Homo sapiens: one gene and its partner. The protein of the gene in region 2 interacts with the protein of the main gene of each other region in a biochemical or structural test. Each region holds a gene or a part of one and is shown on either strand. Other genes may lie near its edges. The genes, in order: EXOSC7 and MPHOSPH6.

What was found.
Region 1: the proteins of MPHOSPH6 (region 2) and EXOSC7 form a complex in vitro, tested with the Homo sapiens proteins (one study listed by BioGRID).

The regions. Positions count from the first base shown.
Region 1 is NC_000003.12:44,979,160-44,986,323, forward strand, and holds part of EXOSC7 (exosome complex component RRP42), read left to right. Parts: intron 1-7,164. UniProt on the Homo sapiens protein: Non-catalytic component of the RNA exosome complex which has 3'->5' exoribonuclease activity and participates in a multitude of cellular RNA processing and degradation events.
Region 2 is NC_000016.10:82,147,518-82,153,244, forward strand, and holds the end of MPHOSPH6 (M-phase phosphoprotein 6), read right to left. Parts: intron 3,998-5,727; coding exon 3,907-3,997; intron 1,887-3,906; coding exon 1,792-1,886; intron 1,347-1,791; coding exon 1,214-1,346; 3' UTR 645-1,213; downstream 1-644. UniProt on the Homo sapiens protein: RNA-binding protein that associates with the RNA exosome complex. Involved in the 3'-processing of the 7S pre-RNA to the mature 5.8S rRNA and play a role in recruiting the RNA exosome complex to pre-rRNA; this function may include C1D.

The DNA of each region.
Region 1 (7,164 bases), on a different chromosome or scaffold from region 2:
TTTACACCATCCAAATAAAGGTCAGGATGCAGGTGAATGAGCCTACCATGGAATCTCAACTGATTCAGTTCTGAAATCTCCTAAACTTTTGTTGCGTTGGTTATAGAGTGCCGGCAGTGCACCTTAAGCAGTGCCTGCCTGAACTCCTGTTGCTTGTATAGTCCTAGTCATTTTGTGTTTTACTTTTCACCTTTGGTCCAGTAACGTCCATTTCAGCTTCTGATGTCACTTTCCCTTCAGCCTTTGGTTCTTTTACTATTTCAGGGAATATTTCATCTTGTTTTGGTGATAGTTAGAAGCAGTTGAAATTAACCTCACGATGTGTTGAGGATTCAGTTGCTAGTAATGGTAACCAACACATCGGCTCAAGCAAAACAGTATGGATTACAAGGCTGCAAGTGTTTCTCCAGGAATCCTAATCTCTGCTGGTTTTTTTTTTCCCCCTCTTTGCTTTGTTTTTGTCTCCCTACAGATTGGTTTTCTATTTCTTGGGCCAGTGGTAGAAAAAATGTGGTTCCTTCCCAGTTCCTCTGTAAAAGAGACCATTCCTTCTCGTTCAGTTCTGAACTCATGTTTCCAAGAGAAAGAAACTCTAGTTCTTTTAGGGGGTTGAGGGAAAGGATGGACAGAATAATTAGGCTCAAACATGGCCACTAGAGGATGTGTCACACTTGGGAGAAGTCAGTTTGTGAGAAGGGAGGGTGGATCATTTTAGTTATTGGCAGAAAATGGAACCCTCTTCAGGTAGTTCAGGAGACTTTTATGATGGGACTCTAGAGCAGTATGGGGGGGGTTTCAGGGAACCAATAAGAGATGTTGAGGAGCCCCAAGACAACTACTGGGAGTGGCTACTGCCCCTATTCCAAAGGGGCCAGGGGAGGAAACAGTATTACCACATTTCAGTGATAGCTGGAACTGTGGAGGAAGGGCTGCCCAACATAAGTCATAGTCTTCGATAGATGCAGGCACTATCAGAAATGTGGCCACTAGATTGGGGGTGAGGGGCACCCTCTGATCTGGTATCTTCCACTGGACAAACCCAACCAGAAGCCAGCAAAGGGAGTCTAGGTGATACAATTTGAGTCAACCTGGTGAACAGATCCCCTCTCCCAGGGGAGAACAGAGAATCAAAAAGGTGGATTAAATCGGTATTTTGATAAATAATTTGATTGGTTTCTGTTAGGTTCTCTTTCAGTCTTTGAAGGCTATATCCCATTCTTATTAGGTACATATTATAATTTTTATTTCATTGAATATTTACAACAGTTCTGAAGGTAAATGTTATCTCTATAGATGAGGAACTGAGCTCGGGCAGGTTGAGTCGCTTGTCAAGGTGACACAGTAATTGAGTGGTGGCACTGGGATTTAAATCCAGACCTGTCTGATTGCAAAGCCCATACTTGACTCTGAGGCCACCTTCCTGCTGCAGTGAAAGTCATTTCTTCCATTTCCTCAGTAGGGATCCAGAGATCAAGGCAGGAGAGAATCTTTGCTTCCTCTACCTCCTTTTCTTTCCCCCTTTCTCTAAAAGCTTGTGGGGAAACTGGAAGGGAAAGAGAAAGTTCTAATTGACACCTCCCACTCCCCAGTTTTTCTAGAGCTTAAATAGTATATGGCATATACTGCTGTATTGTTTTGGTTGCATTTTTCCCACATTGAGTATAAGTTCCTTTAGAACCCTATATTGCATTTCTTTGTATAGCTTTTGTCTTACTAGTATCATAAACGATTTACTCTGCCCATACCATGCAGAACTTGGAGCAGACTTCAGAATTTTTAGAATCTAGGATTTATCCTCTTTTCTGGCTTACTGGGCTAGATGTGTGTTTTCCTCATCCATGAGAAGCCATTGCTAACCTCCCTCTTAGCCCAGGGATTCTGAAGCCTTGAAGTGCATTTTACTCACCTACAAAATACAGATTCTGAGGCTTTACCCCAACATTCTGAATCAGACTCTCTGGGGCTGGGGCCTGAGAATGGACATTATCATAAAGTGTTGGGAAATTTGGGGGCAGCCACCAGACATTGGCCCATGGGTAAGCCACTGACCAGAGATAAAGAAATCTCTGCTCTCTCCTGCTGAAGTCATATGGTTTCCTGCCTCTTTTTGAATGAGGCTTTGGAGTCAGACTGAGCAGGCACCTTCACCATTTACAATAAGTGGTTTTACTTGCATAACTGAACCTGCTTCCCTTGTGTAAAATGGGGACTTATGCACCTGGAAGTAGAATGGGGTTATGAGGAATGATGAGATAAGAGATGTCAAGCACTTGGGCTGTGGTTAACACAGAAAAAATGCTGGCTCCCTTTCAAGTTTGTTTTTCCATCAGAAGTGTGACTTTGTCTTAAACCATCCACACTAGATCCCCAGCCTTCATAGTGACCTCATTAAAGATTCAGCCTGTGGCTCCTGAGAATTAAACCTCTTTTGATTTGAAGGAATCGGGATTTTTCAATTATCTCAAGAAAAGGGATAGGCCAGGTGCAGTGGCTCACACCTGTAATCCCAGCCCTTTGGGAGGCTGAGGTGGGAGGATCACCAGAGGCCAGGAGTTGGCATCCAGTCTGGGCAACATAGCAACACCCTATCTCTAAAAAAAATTAGGTGTGTGGTGGTGTGTGCCTGTAGGCCTAGCTGCTTGGGAGGCTGAGGCCAGAGGATCGCTTGAGCCCAGGAGTTGGAGATTTCACTCCAGCCTGGGTGACAGAGAGATACTCTGTCTCTTAAAAGAAAGAAAAAGAAAAAAGAGAAGGGGGATCTGTGGCAAGAGCTGGAAAGTCCCCAGACAGCTCTGAGGTACCGCCTCTCATGGGCTCCGTGGATTATCTCATGGCCTGTGTGGCTGTCTGTCTTTATCTCTAGTGACATCTCTGCTTTTCTCTGCCAAGATTTATCCCTTCTCTGCAGCCACTTGCTGTCCAGCTTCCCTTCTTTGTAGAATCTGCCTCTGCCCAATACCTTTACTTTCGTGTGGCCTCTCTGGGCTCCTCCATATCATGACCTGTCAGCTCCTCTTTAACTCCTTTCTTCTCTCAAGTGTTTCTCAGATCAGAGACCAGATTGCAATGAGAGAATCAGTTTGGTCTGGTAGTATTTCACGCCAAAAAGAGTTGGTCACCCTTTGGATTATATGCCTTTGGTTCAGGCACCTACCCCTGGTCCTGGCTGTTGGGGATGGATGGTGACTGTTATGTGGCCTTTACAGGGCTTTAGGCACAATAAAGCTTTCCCAGGTTCAGCCTACTGAGTGCTATGGCTATGACCTGGACATTAAACTGGCCCTCATAGGTTCAGACCTGGCCATGGCAATTGACGAACCCTACCACAGGGCTCTTGGAACCCTGTGAAAGCCATTTTATTGTATGTTCTTGGCTGTTGAAGGGAGTTGTAGCCCAGCTGATGGCTTCCATTTCTTTTCTGTGGATCTTGCTTTCATCATAAGCATTGTTTAGGGGTATAGCATGGAAGAGGGAGATCAGGGCCTCAGCCTGGTTTTCAACTATGAGATTGAGCAGTCAGTATTCGGTTGCTCAGTCTGGCCATGACAGAATTGGAGCCAGCCCTCAGGACTCTTGATTTTTAGCTCTCTGCCCTTTCTGTTTACAGACCCATGGCACAGAAAGCCTTATGCCCAGACACTGCAGGATGCAGAGTTATGGAGCCATATCCTTTCAGAGGAATGCCTGGCTACTCAACAGGGTTGGAAAGTCAAACAAGGATCAACACCTACTTTTGCCTGCTGTGTGATGGGCCCGAGCCTGCAAAGCTGGACCAAATGTGGCCCCTTTCCTAAGGGCGGGGGGCAGTCACCTTCTAGTAGGGGAAGGAATTTAGTCTCACTTCTCCTTTAGGAATCTGGAGTATTAGACAAGTCAAAGCAAGTTAATGAGGGGTTAACATAACCTCAGAGGACCACTTTGAGTCTAAAGTCCTTCCAGATGTGTCAGATTGGTAGCGCCAACTTGTCAGTTTCTATTAAGAAGTAATAGGACTGGGCTTCCTGGGTGTGAGGGAAAGTAGGTCTGTGCTTAAATGTCCTTCCACTCTGTCACAAACAGGAGATTGAAACTTAGGTGCCTCCATTCTTATCTGTAACCTCTCTCAGGGTTGTTTTTGAGGATGCAGTGAGTTAATGCATGCCCCCAGAAGCAGGGGAAGGGAACTGCTTTGGGGGGACTCCTATGTGTTACACTGAAGGACTCCTTTAAATGCTTTATGACGTTTCTGTTCTCTTGTAACTCTGTAAGGTCGGGGTTATCCCTGCTTTCTAGATGAAGAAACAGGCTTAGAGCTATTTAGGTCAAGGTCACAAAACTGGCATGTGACAACAGAGATTTAAGTATAATTTGGAAGGTGGCTGTTTCCACCACACCACACCCTACTGGTAGGGTTGTTGTGATCACATGGGTAACAGCTGTGAAAGTCACCAAGAGCTTTCCTGGCATCCAGAAGCCCTTGATCTAGAGGCACATCAGTCTCCTCTGCTGAGAAGGAGGGGACACCACTCCATGCTGTTGACATCTCTTGAGTTTTAAAATGGAGCTTTTACTTCAGGGTAACTCCTATTTAAGTGTTCACACATGGATTAATTCCTTTGCTCGTGACTGCTGCAGATAAATAAAAACTGTGGTAGGGCACCAGGCCCTGAGCTAGGCCAGGCAGGTTTGGACAATTTCCTAAGCCTTTTATAAGGAAAACTGGGTTTAAAAAAAAAAGTTGCCCTGGGTACAGTGATTCATGGACTGGTTAGGTTGGTTTTTTTGGTTTGTTTTCCTCCTATCCTTTTTTTATATGGAAAAAAATTATGCATGCTTGGAAAGGAAAATTTGTAGCTTTTCATTTATCTTTTACTTATCACCTGAGCCTTTCTCCAGGAGGCAGAGAGTGAATTAAAGGCTGGAAAAGCAGTATCTGATGAGGCTCAGTTTTCTGACAGCCCACCAGCCCCTTCCTGGACCAAGTACATTTTCACTACAAAGAGGTGTGACTAATCTTTCAGAGCAAGTGATATTTTAGAAGCAGTAGTTGGACCAGATGTGGTGGCGCATGCCTGTAATCCCAGCACTTTGGGAGGCTAAGGCAGGAGGGTCACTTGAGGCCAGGAGTTTGAGACCAACTTGGGCAACATAGCAAGACCCCATCTCTACAAAAAGTAAAAAATAAAAATTAGCTGGGCATGTTGACATGTGCCTGTAGTCCTAGCTACTCAGGAGGCTGAGGTAGAAGGATTGCTTGAGCCTAGGAGTTTGAGGCTGCAGTGATCACCACTGCACTACAGCCTGGGTGACAGAGTGAGATCCTGTCTCAAAAAAAAAAAAAAAGGAAGAAGCAGCAGTAGTAAACCCTGTGACCTTGTGGCCAGCCAGTTCATCCTGTGAAGGAGGTCTCTGCTGAGTCCTTTTGTAAAGTGAAGACATCCTTTAGAATGCAGTGGACTGTGTAGCATAGCGGTTAAGAGCTCTGACTTGAGGCTTAAGTGCTACTTACTGGCTGTCTGAACTTGGGCCATTCATTTGACATCTTTTAACCTCAGTTTTCTCATTTGTAAAATGGAATGAATAACACTATCGTATAGGATTATTGAAAAGATTAAATGCATTAACTGCAGTATTCCTTGCACATTATCTGGTATATAGTAAATGCACAGTAAATAGCAGCTGCTATTATTTATTGCAAATAATTACAGCCATTTTAATTTATAGATCTGTAGAATTAGAGAATCACTTTGAGACTAATTTAATCTCCATCTTTTACAAATGAGGAAACTAATCCAGAGAGGGAAGGGGCTTGTCCTAAGTCAAGTGGCTAGTTAGTGCCAGGAGCTGGCCTGGAACCATGAGTCATGTTCCTAATGATTGTTCATACTTACACCATATTTACACCCCACAAAGAACTTCTTGTCAATAACCTTTCTGGGCTGGGTATTCACTTTCCTAGCTGGGGAGTGGGGCACATGGAGGTGGAGAGGGCTGGAGTGTTAGAGATTGAGCTAGAAAGCCTTCAGGTTCTATGGGTGAGGTTGGGAAGAGACACAGTTACATAGTTATGGGTCTTCCAGTGAAGAGGGATCACCTTCTGGAGTTCTATCCTAAAGGCTTACTCTCTTAGACTTGAAATTCTGTTGCTTTTTGAATCCATCTCCAGACTCAAGATAGGGATATTGTGTCTGGAATTGGTGGGTTCTTGGTCTCACTGATTTCAAGAATGAAGCTGCAGACCCTCGCGGTGAGTGTTACAGTTCTTAAAGGCGGCGTGTCCGGAGTTGTTCCTTCTGATGTTCAGATGTGCTCGGAGTTTCTTCCTTCTGGTGGGTTCGTGGTCTCGCTGGCTCAGGAGTGAAGCTGCAGACCTTCATGGTGAGTGTTACAGCTCTTAAGGCGGCACACCTGGAGTTGTTCATTCCTCCCGAGGTGGGTTCGTGGTCTCGCTGGCTTCAGGAGTGAAGCTGCAGACCTTCGCGGTGAGTGTTACAGCTCATAAAGGCAGTGTGGACCCAAAGAGTGAGCAGTAGCAAGATTTATTGCAAAGAGCGAAAGAACAAAGCTTCCACAGTGTGGAAGGGGACCCAAGCGGGTTGCCACTGCTGGCTCTGGCAGCTTGCTTTTATTCTCTTATCTGGCCCCACCCACATTCTGCTGATTGGTCCATTTTACAGAGAGCCGAGTGGTCTGTTAGACAGGGTGCTGATTGGTGCGTTTACAATCCCTGAGCTAGACACAAAGGTTCTCCACCTCCCCAGTAGATTAGCTAGATACAGAGTGTAGACACAAAGGTTCTCCAAGTCCCCACCAGAGTAGCTAGATACAGAGTGCTGATTGGTGTATTTACAATCTCTTAGCTAGACATAGAGGTTCTCCAAGTCCCCATCAGACTCAGGAGCCCGGCTGGCTTCAACCAGTGGATCCTGCACTGGGGCCGCAGGTGGAGCTGCCTGCCAGTCCCCTGCCATGCACCCGCATTCCTCAGCCCTTGGGTGGTCGATGGGACTGGGCGCCGTGGAGCAGGGGGCAGCGCTCCTTGGGGAGGTTGGGGCCACACAGGAGCACCCATGGGTGGGGGTGGGAGGGCGGGGAGGCTCCCGCATGGCAGGCTGCAGATCCGGAGCCCTGCCCCGTGGGAAGGCAGCTAAGGCCCAGCAAGAAATTGAGCACAGCAGCTGCTGG
Region 2 (5,727 bases):
AATGAGTTTGTCAATCAGAAGTCGACTGTGCAGACAGGTACATAAGACACGTAGTAAGTCCGGTAGTAAGTCCGTGGATTGTGGTGCTGGTAAGGCACTGGGAAGAACTCGTTACTTCCCAGAGTTGGGAGGTGCATCATTCTCATACTCACAGTGAAAAAAAAAAAAAAGGCCAGATTAACTTCAAAGTCCTATCTTTTCTCATAACTCACCAGAGAACTGAGGTCACAGAGCAATAAAACCTTCCTTACAGAGATTTGAGGAGAGAGGAGACATGTACCTCATTCACTTCCTGGGAGCGAAATTAAATCAGTAGTTCTCAGAAGTCCTAGGTACTTATCTGCAGACAGAAAGACAGACACACATACACACACTTAATTCTATGTGCTTCTTTCTGTACTTAGCATTTAGAATAGAGTTCAGACTAGGAGATGGTACCATTGGTCAGTGGTAAATTCTGTTGGGTTATACCGTAAGAAACTAAAGGTTATTTTTGACCTGTAAAAGGCAATTTCTTATGGTTCAACCTAATACATCACTATATTCTGATCAATGGCTGTTTTTTAAAGTTATTATTTGGAAAAAAGTTATATTACTGAATTAGACTAAAATTGTTATTTGAAAGTACAAGAAAATATAAAAAGTATGTGAAAGTAGATTTTTATTACAGAGCAAATTTTTCTATCAATTCAATGCTTTAAATAAAACAACATAATACCATAAACTGACAATGACCTGGGAGCATGTAAATACTTAAGGCTGGAGAGGCATTTTTATTCTTGATAAATTTATATAATAAATTCTTATGACATTTGATTCCAAATTGTATGTACGAATTGGCTTGACATAATAAATATAAACATAAGGGCAATTTAAACATTGGCAGTAGTTTATGTAAGTCAATTCAAGGTCAGTGACTGGAGAACTATATTAAGAGAAACCTGAGGTAAAAAAAATCTTTAGGAAGCAGCCCTGTAACAATGTACATTTGTAGATCAGGGGCTAAAAATCCACTCTGAATGAATACCAAGAAGCAAAGGATGTACAACATCCATCACACATCTGTTTCAAAAACAGCATGTTTCTAAAATGATAATCTCTTTACAAGTAAACGTTACAGTATTAATAACTATAGAGACACCATTGGGATGAGCTCCAGATGCCCTGCTGACTTCCACCAAGCACCCCTGGGCCATCGCTTAAGGCATCCATCTTAATCCTGGGGCTTTAAGAACATCTTCTTTGCTTTAATTGGTGTTATGTCTCCATTTTCATCTTCTTCATAATTGGCATGGTCTCTCTTTCTGGCAAACTTTTTCCCAATTGTCCCCACCAAGGTCTCATATCTGTCAAGAGGACAGGCAGCACACGTTTAATTTCAAATAAAAAGGTAGGGATCAAGCCTTGTCAAGAATATCAGACCAAATATGCAATAAAAAAGATTACGAAAAAGAAAACTATCATTAAAAGAAACCATCTGATTTAACAATTTATGAACTTCTCTAAGAGTGATTAAATTCCTTGCCATTTTGGTGTTTGCATTACCCTAAATAAATAGAGATGTACATTTTAAAATACACATTTCCAGCAGCTCTGGAAATGGGCCCTCAACTGGCAGCCTGAGACAGGTCTGTGGCCCCCGTAGGCCATTAAGAGAAGGCCGATCACAGTCATCGTCCTACTGGGGGACTCCCTTGAAAGCTGCCGTGCACTGTGGGGTAAGAGGAGCATTCCTGGGAGAGCCAATGAATGCTAGGTCCAGATTAGAAGGCTGCTGCGCAGCACGGTTACCTTCTAGCCATCTCTTCATCTGACACATCAAGCTCTACTGTTTCATCTTCAACTTCTTCTGCTTTGTGCTTAGCATTCATCTGAAGCATCAATTTCTGAAAAATACACCAGTGCTGACCTTCAGGCTAGAAAACGCTTGTGAAAGGAACTGATGTCAAACTTACCTGAAGGCAGAGAAACTGAAGTCAAATAATCTAGAGAACTAGTCAAAATTGATAAGGGACTCTCTGTAATACTTGATACCACAATGGTGTAAGAGAAGTAAGCTCTGAGTCAAAAAAATAGTAAGGCAAAGCCCCACTGAATTATACTTAGGGTGAATTTAAAGTGTATTTAAGATCATAAATCTTAGTATTAGTTACTCATATTTAAAGCAGGCATACTGCTGACACATTCCGGTGAGTGGGGGAAGAAATAATAAACTTTCAGATTTTCCCTGAACTTCCCCCACCCATCTTTAAGCCATATGGAAGAAACACTAGTCGTCAGTAATAATTTTAAATGCATCTCTTGGTGGTGGTGGTGGTGAGTGGAGGAGGTGGGAGAAGTGGAAGGCTGGCCCTGTTTAATGGAGGGAATCTGCACCTCAGCCTTACCCTCCTAAACTTTAGAGTGGATAATGCATCCCATGTAACATCCATGCACCACAGGGTCTCTCCTCCAACTCTTTCACATAAACCTTTTTGTGATAATTATCCTCTGACCTTTTTTTTTTTAAATGTGTAATCTCTTCTTTTTAGCAAGAGGAGAAGGAATAAAAGATGAGAAATCAGTCTTAACTAGTTTTTCTAAGGCTTAAAAGAGTGATAATAGTTTAAAACCTTTTCCTAGGGGGAGTGTATTCAGTGTTTCAGAATCCAGTAATTAGGGCCATTTTCTAACACCCGTCCCTGCCCCCCATCAATTTCTGCGGGCAGTGGCACCTCTCCTTTCCCATTGCAGCAGACATACTTTGGAATGCTCGCCTATCCAAACCCTACTCTTTGAATACCACATCTTCATAATCCCTGCCTTTTTCTTCCCTCTTCACCCCACTGCCCAGCCCCTCTCCTTCTCAATCTGAAGCTTAATTAAAGAAAGTCAAAGCGAGACCAGCATATATTAAAAACAAACACTTCTAACATAACACCTTAATTATCACACATGCCTCCTCCCACTCCGCCAAAAAAGAAAAGGAAAACTAACCTAGAATCTTTCAATAAACTCTGGCAATTGGCTTAGTTAACTGTGGCTCCTAGAGAAGTGGTTCTTAACTGGGGATGATTTTCCCCACCAGGGAACCTGTGAAAATGTCTGGAAACATTTTTGGTTGTCACAGCTGGGTAGGAGGGTGGGGTGTGTGTGTGCTACTGATATTTAGTTGGTAGAGAACAGAGGACAGGGATGTGGTTCGTCATTCTCTTAGGAAAGCCACCACCACAAAGAATTATCTGGCCCCAAATGTTAACACTGCCAAGGGCAAGAAACACTGGCTTCAAGTAATATTTACCAAACTAAAGATTTATATCTCATGTGTCCATTTGGTTCATCAAGTACTTGATAGGATGGCTTTTAACATATGAGCCAGAGTTCTAATGAATATTTGTTAAATAAAGGTCTGCTTCTCTATCCTGGAGCAGGAAAATTCAAATGAATAGCTCAGTTATAAGGCAAATATTCATTTTTCAAACAAACTGTCGAAAGGATTCATTTAAAAATCTACTTACAAGCTTGGATTACAACAGTCCATTAAAAAGTCAAATGACATAATTCTAAAGTAACATTTTTCCGTTAGAAAAAATACATGTATAGGTGCCAGAAAATAACTTTTCATAATAGCATGATATGAATAAAATCTTGACGTTCCTGTAAAAGACACAACTTGAAATTTTAATATTTATGGTGGCTCTGTCAAGGGCTGTATACTGCTATATGAAATTATCTACTCACCTCTACCATAAAACTAGACTGCAATGCCTCCAATTTCTTTAAATAGCTATGGCGATATTTCAAGACTTGTTATTTTCTATATAATGAGTAGAAATGGTACCTGGTGGAGAAACACCTAAGCCCAATTATTAGCAGAAAAAAATTCAATTGGAAAAATTTTTAATTTGAAGCAATTATATTTAATACCTCAACCTCAGGATTAAATCCTCTGAATGACATTCTTCCATAGAGAAGATCTTCACATAGTAAGAAACTCTGCTCTTCTATTATGAAACTCCTAAATGGGAAAATAAAAATAGCATTTCTCCATATATAAAGCACAGCAAACAAAAGCCAACACTTTGAATAAAAAAAATAATCAACCTATGGTTCTCAGTAGAATGAAGTAAAAATACAGTAAGATTTCTAACTTAGGGTTAAAAATAAAATCTGATTAATTTGGTCAGCAAAGGCATTAGGAGACAAGAGCAGCAAGCTAGAGGCACAGCCTCTCTTAAACACCACATTTAATTTGCATAAATATCTACATAATATAAAGATCTAAAGTATTGACAATAAACTTGAATTTGCCAAAGTTGAAGCAAAGTTTCTTTTGTGTTTACATCCCCTCACCATATTTTTTTCCAATTCTTTTTCAGAAAGGAAATAATATGTATGTAAAAATACACATACAGTATACAGTGACACACTACTCCAAATCATTTTAATAAAGTTTCTGGCATATTTTGTCTTTCGTTCTCAGGGATTTCAAAAATTCCATTCTCTAATTATCAAAGCAGCACATTTTAAGGAACGTAATTTGGAAAGCAGAATAAAGTATGAGTTTATAAACTGCCTGTAAGCTCCTTACCAAGAGGATAAAAAGGACTGTTAGTATATTTGAATATTTCCTTCCAGTCTTTTTTGTACTTGCATTTACGTTGATTCTTGAACACAGGTCTGAGCTGTGTGGTGCACTTATACACAGATTTTTTTCAAAAAATTTCAATAGTTTTTGGGGAACAGGTGGTTTTTTGGTTACATGGATAAGTTCTTTAGTGGTGACTTCTGAGATTTTGGCCCCCACCAAATTCTTATTACAAATCCAGGAGAAGTAGTGGGAAATCAGAGGCTTGAGCAGCTTTAACAGTGTTATCAGTCAGAGCTCTTAGCTATAAACACCAAAGGCTGACCCTGGATGACTTCAGCAGAGAAGGAATTTACTGTAAGAACACTGTAGGCTCTTCATTTCCAAGGGGGACTGGTTCCAGGACCCCTTGTAGATATCAAAATCTGTGACACAAAGAGCCAGCTGTACTGGGCATCTCAGAATCACCGGGAAGGCTGAAGGGGCAGAATTGGAAGACGGGCAGAAATAACGGTCGCTAGGTGGTTGCACCAGAACCAAAATCATGCTAGAGAATGACCCTAGGAAAACCACTGTTGCTGCTGACGGGGCTGAGCACGACACCACTGATGGCATTGGGGCAGGTTGCGTTCCCTGGACCAGGATGTTTCTGTCTGCAGCAGAATTTCTCTGCTGAGTCACCACCACATGACCGTAAATCCAAGGTGACATATCTATCTCCAGCCTGGCCATAAACCCTAAAGCATGGCAGGAAAGCAAACATGTGGCTTTTAAGGCTTGTTTGCCGGAGTAGGCTCTGATTCTCATAAAGATTCCCTTATGCAACAAACACTTATTAAACCAAACTGTGTGTATTAAATCAAACTGCGGAAACAGCCACCAGTAAAAGAGCCTCAGCTGGGCACAGTGGCGGATGCCTGTAGTCCCAGTTACTCAGGTGGCTGAGGCAGGAGAACTGCTCGCATCCCAGAAGTGGAAGTTGCAATGAGTCAAGATTGTGCCACTGCACTCCAGCCTGGGTGACAGTGTCAAACACTCACCTCCAAAAAAAAAGAAAAAAAAGGAGCCTCTGCTCTCCTGGAGGTTACAGTCTATAGAAAGAGGGGCCAAATAATGAATGAAACATGAAACATTTATATCACACAATGGATGAAAATAAA